Homo sapiens: one gene and its partners. The protein of the gene in region 1 interacts with the protein of each later gene in a pairwise test. Each region holds a gene or a part of one and is shown on either strand. Other genes may lie near its edges.

Region 1 (3,755 bases):
CCTCCTGTCCACATCACCATGAAAACAGGGGCTTTGCCTGTTTGCTCCCTGCTGAATTCCGCAGTGCCTAGGAGTGCCTCACCCCCAGTAGACACTTAGTGCCTGTTTGTGGAATAAATGAGTTCCAAAAGGAGGTTGTCTCCTTCTTCTTCACTACTTCTTTCTGACTTTTTATGGATTGTTGTCTTAATCTCTATAAATGCTTTGTCCTTGGGGCTAGTAGAGCATAGGGCTAAAACCACTGGGCAACCAAGCAGCAGCCCACACTCACAGTTAGGCTCTCTCATTCACAAGCAGTGTCACCTGGAATAAGTCACCTAGCCTCTCTGAGTTTTCATTTATTTGCTTATGAGATAGAGAAAGCCTGCCTGCCTATCACACAGGTTGTGAAAGTTTAATAGGATGTCACATGAAAGATCATCTAGGATAAGGCATCATTTTCATTTATGGCAGCGTCTGGCCCTGACTGAATGCCAGAGCTTTACATGTTTGACTGTCTCATTTAACTCTCACATGGAATCAATAAGAGATGAACTCATATCATTAAACTCATTTTACAGATGAGAAAACTGAGGAGAACCAAAATGTTAAGTGAATTACCCACCAGCTAGTAAACAATAGAGCCAGGCTTTGAAGCCAAGCATTTTTATTCTAGTGTTTTTCCAGTGTTCATCCAACAGGACATCCAGGAGGCCAACGTGTCATAGTTCCCAACAGATTATATTCTGAGTTATCTACAAACTTTTTTGAGTCACTTGAAGATTTGTCTTTACACTCTGATTATAGTTTCCACCAGCCTATGCAGACTGCCAAGTAGGTCTCATTTTTTCCTCTTAGAAATGGTAAAATATCATATAGTCACTTATAAGAAAAACTGTGATTAGAAAAAATTTTAGCATTATCCACTTTATGGTCATTCAAGAATGTTAAGTGTGAGCAGAGAACAACAGTTCCACAACTTGATTAGTTGGTAGTTTAACATGGATGTCTGAAAGTCACATATACGTAATTTCTTAGGATTCTTAAATTAGTAAATCTAGTTTACTGAAGCAGTATTAGCATTACTATTTTAGATTGCAAAAATGCCTTAATTGTGTAGAATTGGCTTATAGAGTGTTACTTAAGAAAAATGTGATTCTACCTCTATTTCTGTTGTAGCACACTTAACAACAAACAAACATGAAAAGATATATTAGCTTTCATAGAAACATTTTTGTTCTGTAAATAGGTTAATGATATGGTAAGGCCCCTAAGATAACTGAATTAACATTGTTTATATTAATGTTACTGCTGTTTATAAGATAGTATGAATTTGTGGGCTTATCTGAATTGTAGGCCATTCCCGTGATTAAAAATAAAGACAAAACTTTGAGTTACTGTTTGCGAAAACCTTATTGTGCTATGTAGAAATATTGAACTAATATTAAAATATTTGATGCTTTGGTTTCAGGGATTGGTTTAAAATTGGAGTCCTTTTTTTATTGGTTAGTCTTACAAAAGTGTAAGCCATTATATTTTTGACTATTTAAATAAAAACAAATGTTATTTTAAATATACAGAATGGATTGATAGTATAGGAGAGTGTAAGTTCTTCATAGGAACTTTAGAAAAGAAATATATGCTAATTCAGTTTTTTTAATCTTCTGCACAGTATATATACACTTGGTAATTTTGAACTCAATTTTGTGTTTTGAAAATATGTGTTCATAATTTAGGTAATTTGCTACTTAAAGCAATAAGTCTCTGATACCTGAAAAGTAAATGTAAATGGCGACGGTGAAATAATACTGCAATTAACTTAATAGAGAAAAAATTATTAAAAGACAGCCTGTCATACCTATGTTCAACTAGCACAAAATAAATGTTTTAATGACTGACTGGAGTTATGAAAACGATTTGACCCAAGGTGCAATTTTTGTCTCCAAACTGTTTTTCTCTTAACTGCCAATTACTGTAGCATTTCCCTAATGTTATCCTGCCCCATCCCTTCGACTCAAACGGGCAGAAATTCCTGTCTTCCCAAAGAAAAAGGTATTGTCAGGCTTCCCTCTGTCTTCCTCCTCACCACCTAAGGAATGAAACTCTGTCAAATGTCCCCTAAGATTTGTGTTGTACCATCTAACCAAGTCCAGATGGTGTCTCAAGTTTAGTCCTCATACTTAGTAAAGTGTTTGTAGATGAATTCTAGGCTTAATTGTGAACACTCGTTTTCCCAATAACTTATTCCATGCTTTTCTGACTTGTTTGTGTTATGGCCTTTCTGTGCTGATGAATTTGTAAATGTGGTTTAATTACTGTTTACCAAAAAATAGCTGCACACAGATCAGTCTCAGTGGGAGACTTAGCTAAAATGTTGAGGCAATTTGTTTCTAGTGCAAAAGCAGCTAATAAATTTGAAGCACTTTTTAAACACTGGGAAAGGCACTTAAGTTTGGTTGTGAAGAAACAGTGCTTTATACATTGGAGACATAAATCATTCTTTAAGAGAGTAGATTTAAATATCAGAATGGCATTTTTCCCCAAGGCCAGGCAAGCAGCAATTTGCACAAACTGTAAAAATGGTGATTTGATTGAAAACCACACCAAAGAGATATATTCTAAAGAACTCCCCAAAAGGAAAACTTGAAATTACTTGTAAATTCCATAAAATGTCTCAGAGCTCTAGAAAGCCGGGTATTATGTATTACCGGATGTTTCTGAATTCTGGCCTCAGGCAAATTGCCAACTTAGCAACTAAATGACAGCTTTACAATTCTAATACAAACCAGCCTCTGTAACTCTGTTTTTTTAATCTCCAGGGGAAAAAAAGGACACAGAGGGAAGTGAAAGATATTAGACTGTTCAATTTATAAATTCCATTTGTTCTCCATTTGAGTTGCAGTTGAATTTTGCTTTTGCATAAAATGGTGTTTGCTTGATTCTGCCTAAAGAGGGAACTCTGGGCCAAGCGTGGTGGCTCATGCCTGCAATCCCAGCAATTTGGAAGACGGCATGAGCCCAGGAGTCTGAGACCAGGCTAGGCAACAAAGTGAGACCCCCATCTCTACAAAAAATAAAAAATTTAGCCAGGCATGGTGGTACACACCTGTAATACCAGCTATTTGGGAGGCTGAGGCAGGAGGATTGCTTAAACTCAAGAGTTTGAGGCTGCAGTGGGCCATGATTGCACCAGCACATTGCAGCCTGAGTGACAGAGTCTTAAAAAAAAAAAAAAAGGCAGGGGGAACCCAAAAAGTAAGTTCCTTCCTACAGCAGTTGGCCATACTCATAGGTGAAGTGCCCCATACTCCCATCACTTTGGACACCTGCATATGAGCAGGGCAGGTTTTGCCTCCAGTGCAGAAGTCAGAAAACAAAATCAATAAACTTGGCAATGAATGAGGATTGCTGGTCATTATCTGAACCATGAGTATTATGCAAGCAGTTTGAGTAGCGTGAGATACAAACACCACCCCGTAGAAGTTTATTTTTAGTGAGGCCACCAGACAGGCCTCACTAAATTCAATATAAGAGATCCTAAGCTCAAGTCTTAACCACCAGATAGTTTTCAGTGTGTAAAATAGCGTTCTGAAAACCAAGCCCCCGTGCTTCTGGCAGTGAGCCTCCTTTTCCAAAATTATTCCATGTTTCCACTTTGTAGTTACCTTCCTATCAGTCATTTTTCTCAGTCATGCCTTCATTCATTCATTCACCAAATGCCATTTGCGGTGGGCTCTAGGAAGACGAAGCAACCCCAGTGGAGACTCTGCCTCAAG
Region 2 (3,755 bases), on another chromosome or scaffold:
AATAATTATCTTAAACATTACAAGATCACCTCTTATGAGATGTCAAAAGTATATCATTTCCAGATCAGTTTTATGTAAAATGCCAAATTATGAATTCTTTATATAAGCTCAAAATATTTTGTTTTACTGCAGCTGCCACTGGTGACATGCCAACTTACCAGATCCGAGCTCCTACTGCTGCTTTGCCACAGGGAGTGGTGATGGCTGCATCGCCCGGAAGTTTGCACAGTCCCCAGCAGCTGGCAGAAGAAGCAACACGCAAACGAGAGCTGAGGCTAATGAAAAACAGGTGAGGTGTTGCACAGGGAATCGGTAACTTCTAGGACACTTTTTAAAAATTACAGTTTTCACCGGGCGCAGTGGCTCACGCCTGTAATCCCAGCACTTTGGGAGGCCAAGGCAGGCGGATCACAGGGTCAGGAGATCAAGACCATCCTGGCTAACACGGTGAAACCCCATCTCTACTAAAAAATACAAAAAAATTCGCCGGGCGTGGTGGCAGGTGCCTGTAGTCCCAGCCACTTGGGAGGCTGAGGCAGGACAATGGCATGAACCTGGGAGGCGGAGGTTGCAGTGAGCCAAGATCGTGCCACTGCACTCCAGCCTGGGCGACAGAGCGAGACTCCATCTCAAAAAAATAATAAAACAATATTAAATATTAATAAATGATAATAAAATAATGATAAAAATAATATCAATAAATAAAAATAAAAATAAAAATTACAGTTTTCAGCTGGGCGCAGTGGCTCCCGCCTGTAATCCCAGCACTTTGGGAGGTCAAGGCGGGCAGATCACAAGGTCAAGAGATTGAGACCATCCTGGCCAATATGACGAAACCCTGTCTCTACTAAAAATACAAAAATTAGCTGGGTGTGGTGGTGTGCACCTGTAATCCCAGCTACTCGGGAGGCTGAGGCAAGAGAATCACTTGAACCCGGAAGGCGGAGCTTGCAGTGAGCTGAGGTCGCGCCACTGGACTGCAGCCTGGGTGACAGTGAGACTCCGTCTTAAAAAAAAAAAATTACAGTTTTCATAAGCCATTTCTCCCAAGTTACATGTTGTGTGGCATTTCATGTAGGTTTGTGCTCTGTGTGTGTTATTAGATTGTCTTCCAGTCAGAATTCCTGGCTGTTAAACTATTTCATCAGCAGGAGTTACATCCCTATGTTGTAAGGGTGATGTCCAAAAGATACAGTAATTTTTAAAAATAATGATTAAAGGACTTTGTTAGAAACAAAGAGCTATTTTGTATTTAGTATTTGCTGTGAAGTAGGTGATAAGTCGAATTTTTTAGCTTCTCTCTGAGAAAAATGAAGTGTAAGTGAGGCGTTACTTTTCGACATTTTCTACATGTAGTTTCCTTTTGTCTATTTTTTAACTTTTTTTCCTCTATTACACTGAAATACATATTTAATCTGATAAATTCTAGTCAAGTGCAAATACAAAATAACAAAAAGAATTAAAATCATCCATGGCTCTAACCACTTAGGATACCTCCTATTATAGTCTATGTACTTCCAGTCAGCTCTCATTTTCTCTCACTTTTTCTTGCTCCATATCTCTGTCATTTTATTTTTAAGCAACATATTATAAAATGCTATTTTCTAAAACTTTTTAAAAATTTAAACATAAATAAAATTTTATTTAACTTGTATATTATTTATTGGTTTAGTTTTTATTATGAATAATGGTGCAAATTAATCTGATTTTCAAAAGGAACAGAATTGTCTTAGAGTTTCCCAGTAGTCTTGTCACCTTAGTCCTAATGTCAAATAATGTCCTCATTGTGTGCAGCCAGGACAGAGATTCAGCAGTGTTATCAAGGGCCCAGACTCCCGCTCCCGGCTGTGTCATCTTCAGCATGTATCATTCATTCTCATGATCACAGCGCGGCTACTGAACCTCTAGGCATTGCCTCAGACAGGAAGAAGGGCTAGAGCCAAAAATTGGGGCTAGCTGAGGTCTGGCCCAACTGCAAACCTTTCCTGGAAGATCCTCCCAGCAACTTTCACCTACATTTCATTGGCTAGAAATAGGTCTTTAGTCCCTAGCTGTACAGGATTCTGAGAAAGGTTTATTTTCGCTTTCTAAATCTCAGTTTCAGAGCAAGACAAGAGAAATGCAGATGATACCTGGCTGTTAGGTTGCTCATTATCTGTTTAGCAGATTTTAAGTGCTTTATTTCTACTGTGTGTTTAATGCTTACATGAGAATAGGTGATTATTATGCCCAGTTTACAGATGAGGACCAGAAGTTCAGAGATGTTAAGGAATAAGTTGGTCAAGATCACATGGCCCAAACTGGGCAGAACCAGGATGGGCAACCGGGCAGTCTTTATTCCAGAGCCTGTCCTCTATACCAGCATCAGGCATCTCAAAAATACCCCATGATAACCTGCAAATTTCACTTCCTGGGGAAGTGTGAGGCTTTAGTCATTCACAGATAGATCTCTTACATATTTTCTTTTTATTCTTTGATTGGCATCTATAATCGATATCTCATTATATCGTATTTCTGCCAATCCAGCAACAGTTTTTATTTCTTTCCAGCCTTGTCAGAGTTTCTTCCTTGCCTTGCACTTCCTCTCCGTGCTGAGGATACACCCAGACACATGCAAGCCTGAAAACCGAGCTCACTATTAATAGAAGAAACAGGTGTTTTCCATGGCTGAGGAGTGCTTAGGAATGTACCATCTACTGATGTGATCGGGGAAAGCTTTGTGCCTGCAACATTTTGACTCTAGTAATATGTGTGTCTGTGCATGCACACACACACATGCACACTCAAATGTAGAAGATGAAGTATGAGTATTTATAATAGCTTATTAAAGAAAATGTTTAAACACCCGCAACACCGCTATTAGGTCTTTAAATTTTTCATTTAATGGTAACCATGTTTTGTAAAATGACTATCTTCCTTCTAGGTCTAGAATTTAATATAATTTAATCATGAAAACGTTGGTATTCATAAATGAATTTCAGTGCCTTTGTGGAAAAGAGTTAAATTATGTCCCCAAATTGGCAAATGTGTGTGTTTGGATTTATTCTTAACTTTTCCAATTGCATCATTTAGATTAAATTAGTCACTATAACATTCTTTTCAATTTTACATTTTAAATTTCTTTTGTTAACCAGCTGAGAAGTCTGAGAACTTTGTATGTTCACAGGGTGAGTCCATTGTTCCTGGCTAGGAAGCAGGGGTTGATCTTTTCCTGCAGTTCATTTGGATTGAAGGTTCTTCTTTGCTGACTCTTGCTTCCATAGTGAAAACACAGATATCCACTCAGTGAGAGTCAGCTATCTTAAAAAAAAAAAAAAAATCATGTATACATCACATGTGGTTCAGGATGCTAGCTGGCATTACAGAAACTGGTGTTTAGACATTCAACACTGCTTTTTTTAACATATTTGAATGATAGTGTCTGTTTCAGTGCAGGCTTTTTTGACATGAAGGGTGATCTACCTCAAAGGCAGTTATTCTGGAATTGAATCCTCCAAAATGAGGCCAATTAAAGGGTGTCTTCTACATAGGAGTTAAGGGAAGTGGTTGCCATCCCTCCCACCCTGAAAAAAAGAAAAAGAGAAAATGTTGGCTCTATTTATTGTTTTGGTGGGGTTATGTATGAAAATGACTAAGTCAACTCATCTGTTTGTGTTGTTGCTTTGGCTACTGGTCTGTTCTTTCATTTTGGGCTTATAGTGCTTTAAAATTCAATATATTGGATATTAAATGCATGTGATTAGGAAACAGTCTTG
Region 3 (3,755 bases), on another chromosome or scaffold:
AAGCCCATCATCAAGGTATCTGCAGTGTTGGTTTCTTCTGAGTCCTCTCTCTGTGGCTTGCAGGTGGCCATCATCTGCTGTGTCTTCACATGGTTGTCACTCTGTATGTGTCTGTGTCCTGATCTCCTCTTAATGTAACGACACCACTCATACTGGATTAGGGCCTACCCATATGACTCATATTACCTTGGTTACCGTTTTTAAGGTCCTATCTCTAAATACAGTCCCATTCTGATAATCTAAGAGTTAGGACTTCAATGTGTGAATTCTGGGGAGACACAAGTCAGCCTGTAATACCTTGTCTCAAGGGGCAGCTACCTGTTGACCTGCCCAAATGCAGGCTCAGTGCTGCCCAGATCCTTCTGCTGCCCAAGAAAAGCTGCAAACGTCGATGTTAACAGAAAATCTCCCAAGTTTTACATTGGCAACAATTTCAAATTAAAAACCCAAAACAAAAAGTACAGAGTAGTCTGTGATCTGTGTGAGGCCACTGATAAGCCAACTGATCCCTGCTTGTCTAGGCTATAATTTCCTCAGTGGCAGGGGCATGTTCCATAGCTTTTTAATCCTCCTCAGCCAGTCTCTGCACGTTGTTTATTCTTTTTCTTTTTTTTTTTTTTTTTTGACAATGTCTTGCTCTGTTGCCCAGATTGAAGTGCAGCGGCACAATCTCTGTTCACTGCAGCCTCTGCCTCCTGGACTCAAGCAATTCTCCCCACTCAGCCCCCCAAGTAATTGGGACTACAGGCATGCACCACCACGCCCGGCTAATTTTTGTAGTTTTTGTAGAGATGAGGTTTTGCCATATTGTCCAGGCTGGTCTCGAACTCCTAGGCTCAGGCACTCCACCTGCTTTGGCCTCCAAAAGTGCTGGGATTATAGGTGTGAGCCGCCGCACTCAGCCTGCACATTGTAATATTAACAAAAAGTTAAAAGCTAATCACTGAATGACTAAATTTGAATTTTACAATCTTGTGTAAAGTAGGGCACACCTGTAGAAATCCTGTACCTCTTTGCATTTATGCCCAGCTATACAATTGCATCAGCCATTATAACTGCTTTCATTGCCATTGATGCCAAAGTTTGCAAATGTTCAGCTCCTCACGGGGTCACTGTTACGGCCACTTTACAGATGGGGAAACAGCAGACCCAGGTCTATCCAGGTTTACCCAGGTCTGCTTGTTTATTCTCATGAGTGTGGCAACCTTCTCCCATGACATCATCTTTCTCTTTGTTCTCAGGAATGATTATTGTATCAAAAATCACTACTGTTACTGAGTGCTTACTGTGGGCTGGTTGCTGCATTATCTCATTAAATATTCACAATTACTCTGTAAGGGAGGTGTGAGCAGTCAAATTACTCAAGGGAGGCATTCCTAAAGACCTCAAATAATTCAAAACTGGTATCATTAAAAGCTCACGGGCCGAATGGAAAACCAAACATTGTATGTTCTCACTCATAAGTGAGAGCTAAGCTATGAGGATGCAAAGGCATAAGAATGACACAATGGACTTTGGGGACTCAAGGGGAAAGGGTGAAAGGGAGCAATGGATGAAAGACTACAAATAGGGCACAGTGTGTACCGCTCGGGTGATGGGTGCACCAAAATCTCACAAATCACCACTAAAGAACTCACTCATGTAACCAAACACCACCTGTTCCCCAATAATCTATGGAAATTAAAAAATTTTTTAAAAAAGCTCACCTGCTGAAGAATGGTAGATATTTCTGATTACCTGTTAGGACAGTGCTGTTATGTGGCTATAGCATAAATACAGTTTACAATTTACAATTCACACTGCCTTACAAGATTTTTGACAACTTTTAACTTGGGAAAATTGGGGTTATTTCAGATTTCACACATCAAGTGAAACAATGAATATTCAAATTCAAATAAGACCATACAGTATTATTTTTCTCATTTTACAGACAAAGAAACTGAGGCCTAGAGAGATTAAATAACTTGGCCCAAGGTCAAACAGCTGGAAAACAACTTAACCACCAGACCAGCTCGTGCTTCTCTAGGGGTAGACCTGTATCTGATTTTTTTTTCTTTGTAGAGATGGCGGGGTGAGGTGGGGGGAGGTCTCACTTTGTTGCCCAGAGGGTCTCACTTTGTTGGCCAGACTGGTCTCGAACTCCTGTCTTCAGGTGATCCCCCCACCTCAGCCTCCCAAAGTGCTAGGATTATAGATGTGAGACATTGTGCCCGGCCCTGTATCAGAAGTTTAGGGTTACTCCGAACGCCCATCAAGGCCTGACCAGAAATGACTCCATGGAAGTTCTTGGGTTCACCCAGAAAAGTCAAGGAAAACTTAGCCTTTTCTCCCTGTCCCCTTCAAAGTTCAGATTCTGTTTCTCTCCCTCAGTTCTTAGATCTTCAAGTGTAGTCCCTTTTATGTCATTCCCAGGGATTGTTGCCTAATCCCAAAATTTCCTTCCCCTGCCGCCTGCCTGGTCTTGAATGCTGTTATGTCTAGATGCTGTTAGGTGCCTATTACAAAGGAAAAGGAGAGTGAGGCTTTTCTTTCCCGGTTACACAGGTGTGCCAGCTGGATGCTCAGGTAAGCAGACAGTTATAACCTGCCCAGGTAGTTCTAGGGATCAGAGTGGGCCCTACAGGAGCAGCAACTACATCTTTTCACCTCTAATTCCCCAGTGTCTGGCCTCAAAGGCAGTAATAATAAACCATACTATTTATTGGGTATCCATGTGCCAGGCTACAGTATCATGCACACATGCACACCTCATATCCCATTTGGCCCTGTCGCTTGATGAGATGAGCACCATCCCGCTTCTTCCCTGGTCTTTGTATTATGGAGCACAGACACGCCAGGTGGCTCAAAGTTGTGGAGCCAAGGCAACACCCCATCCTTCCCTCAGAGCAGAAACAGCAAGGCAGGAAAAAAGGCCCAGCCTCCCTAGGACTTTTTTTTGGTAGCACCTGACAGAGCCATCACTCAAAGTGATAAGTGAAAATGGGAATTTATGAGAAGCTACAGGAGTCTCTACCTGAAATGCATGCAGGACTCAGGGTGGCAGATCAGGACTGGTTTTTGTTAGTTCAACTGCAGTTAGTGGCAATTACAATTTTAAACAAGGTCTTAAAACTCGTATCATTACATTCAACATCCATTATCTTGTTTGATTTTCGGAAGGGCAAGAAATAATAAAATAATAGAAGCTAATGCTTTTATACCTCTTGCCATATGCCAGGCCTTATTCTAGAAACATTAAATCCTCGTAACAACTGTCTAAGGTAGGTTCTATTATTATCGTGTTCATGTTGGAGAGGAGGAGACTGAAGGGGAGAGATTAAGTAACGTGTAAAGGTACTACAGCTAGTTCATGGCATCTGAACTCACACAGCTATGCTGGAGCTATTATGGAAGCCACCATGCGGCTATTGGAGACTTGGAATGCTCCAGTCTGAATTGAGATCCGCTGCAAGTGTGAAATACATCACTGGGCTTCAAAGACTTAGTACTAACTTAAGAATGTAAAATGTCTCATTAATAATTTTTATGGTGATTACATGTTGAAATGATGATATTTGGGAAATCAAGGGCTAAATAGCATTGAAATTAATTTCACCTGTTTCTTTTTTACTTTTTTAATGTGACTACAAGACAAACTGACACATGTGACTTGCGTCATTTTCCTATTGGGCTGAGCTGCTCACACCCACTCCCCCACCGCTGTGGTCAGGCACGTGGAGACTGGCCCTGAGGATGCGATATGGGGATATGAACAC

Evidence for each region.
Region 2: the proteins of NCALD (region 1) and CREM interact in binary tests that used the Homo sapiens proteins (3 or more experiments, as listed by UniProt).
Region 3: the proteins of NCALD (region 1) and C1QTNF2 interact in binary tests that used the Homo sapiens proteins (3 or more experiments, as listed by UniProt).

What each region holds. Positions count from the first base shown.
Region 1 is NC_000008.11:101,721,315-101,725,069, reverse strand, and holds part of NCALD (neurocalcin-delta), read left to right. Parts: intron 1-3,718; exon of another isoform or gene 3,719-3,755. UniProt on the Homo sapiens protein: May be involved in the calcium-dependent regulation of rhodopsin phosphorylation. Binds three calcium ions.
Region 2 is NC_000010.11:35,206,763-35,210,517, forward strand, and holds part of CREM (cAMP-responsive element modulator), read left to right. Parts: intron 1-132; coding exon 133-289; intron 290-2,549; coding exon of another isoform or gene 2,550-2,595; exon of another isoform or gene 2,596-3,755.
Region 3 is NC_000005.10:160,363,891-160,367,645, reverse strand, and holds part of C1QTNF2 (complement C1q tumor necrosis factor-related protein 2 isoform 1 precursor), read left to right. Parts: intron 1-3,755. UniProt on the Homo sapiens protein: Involved in the regulation of lipid metabolism in adipose tissue and liver.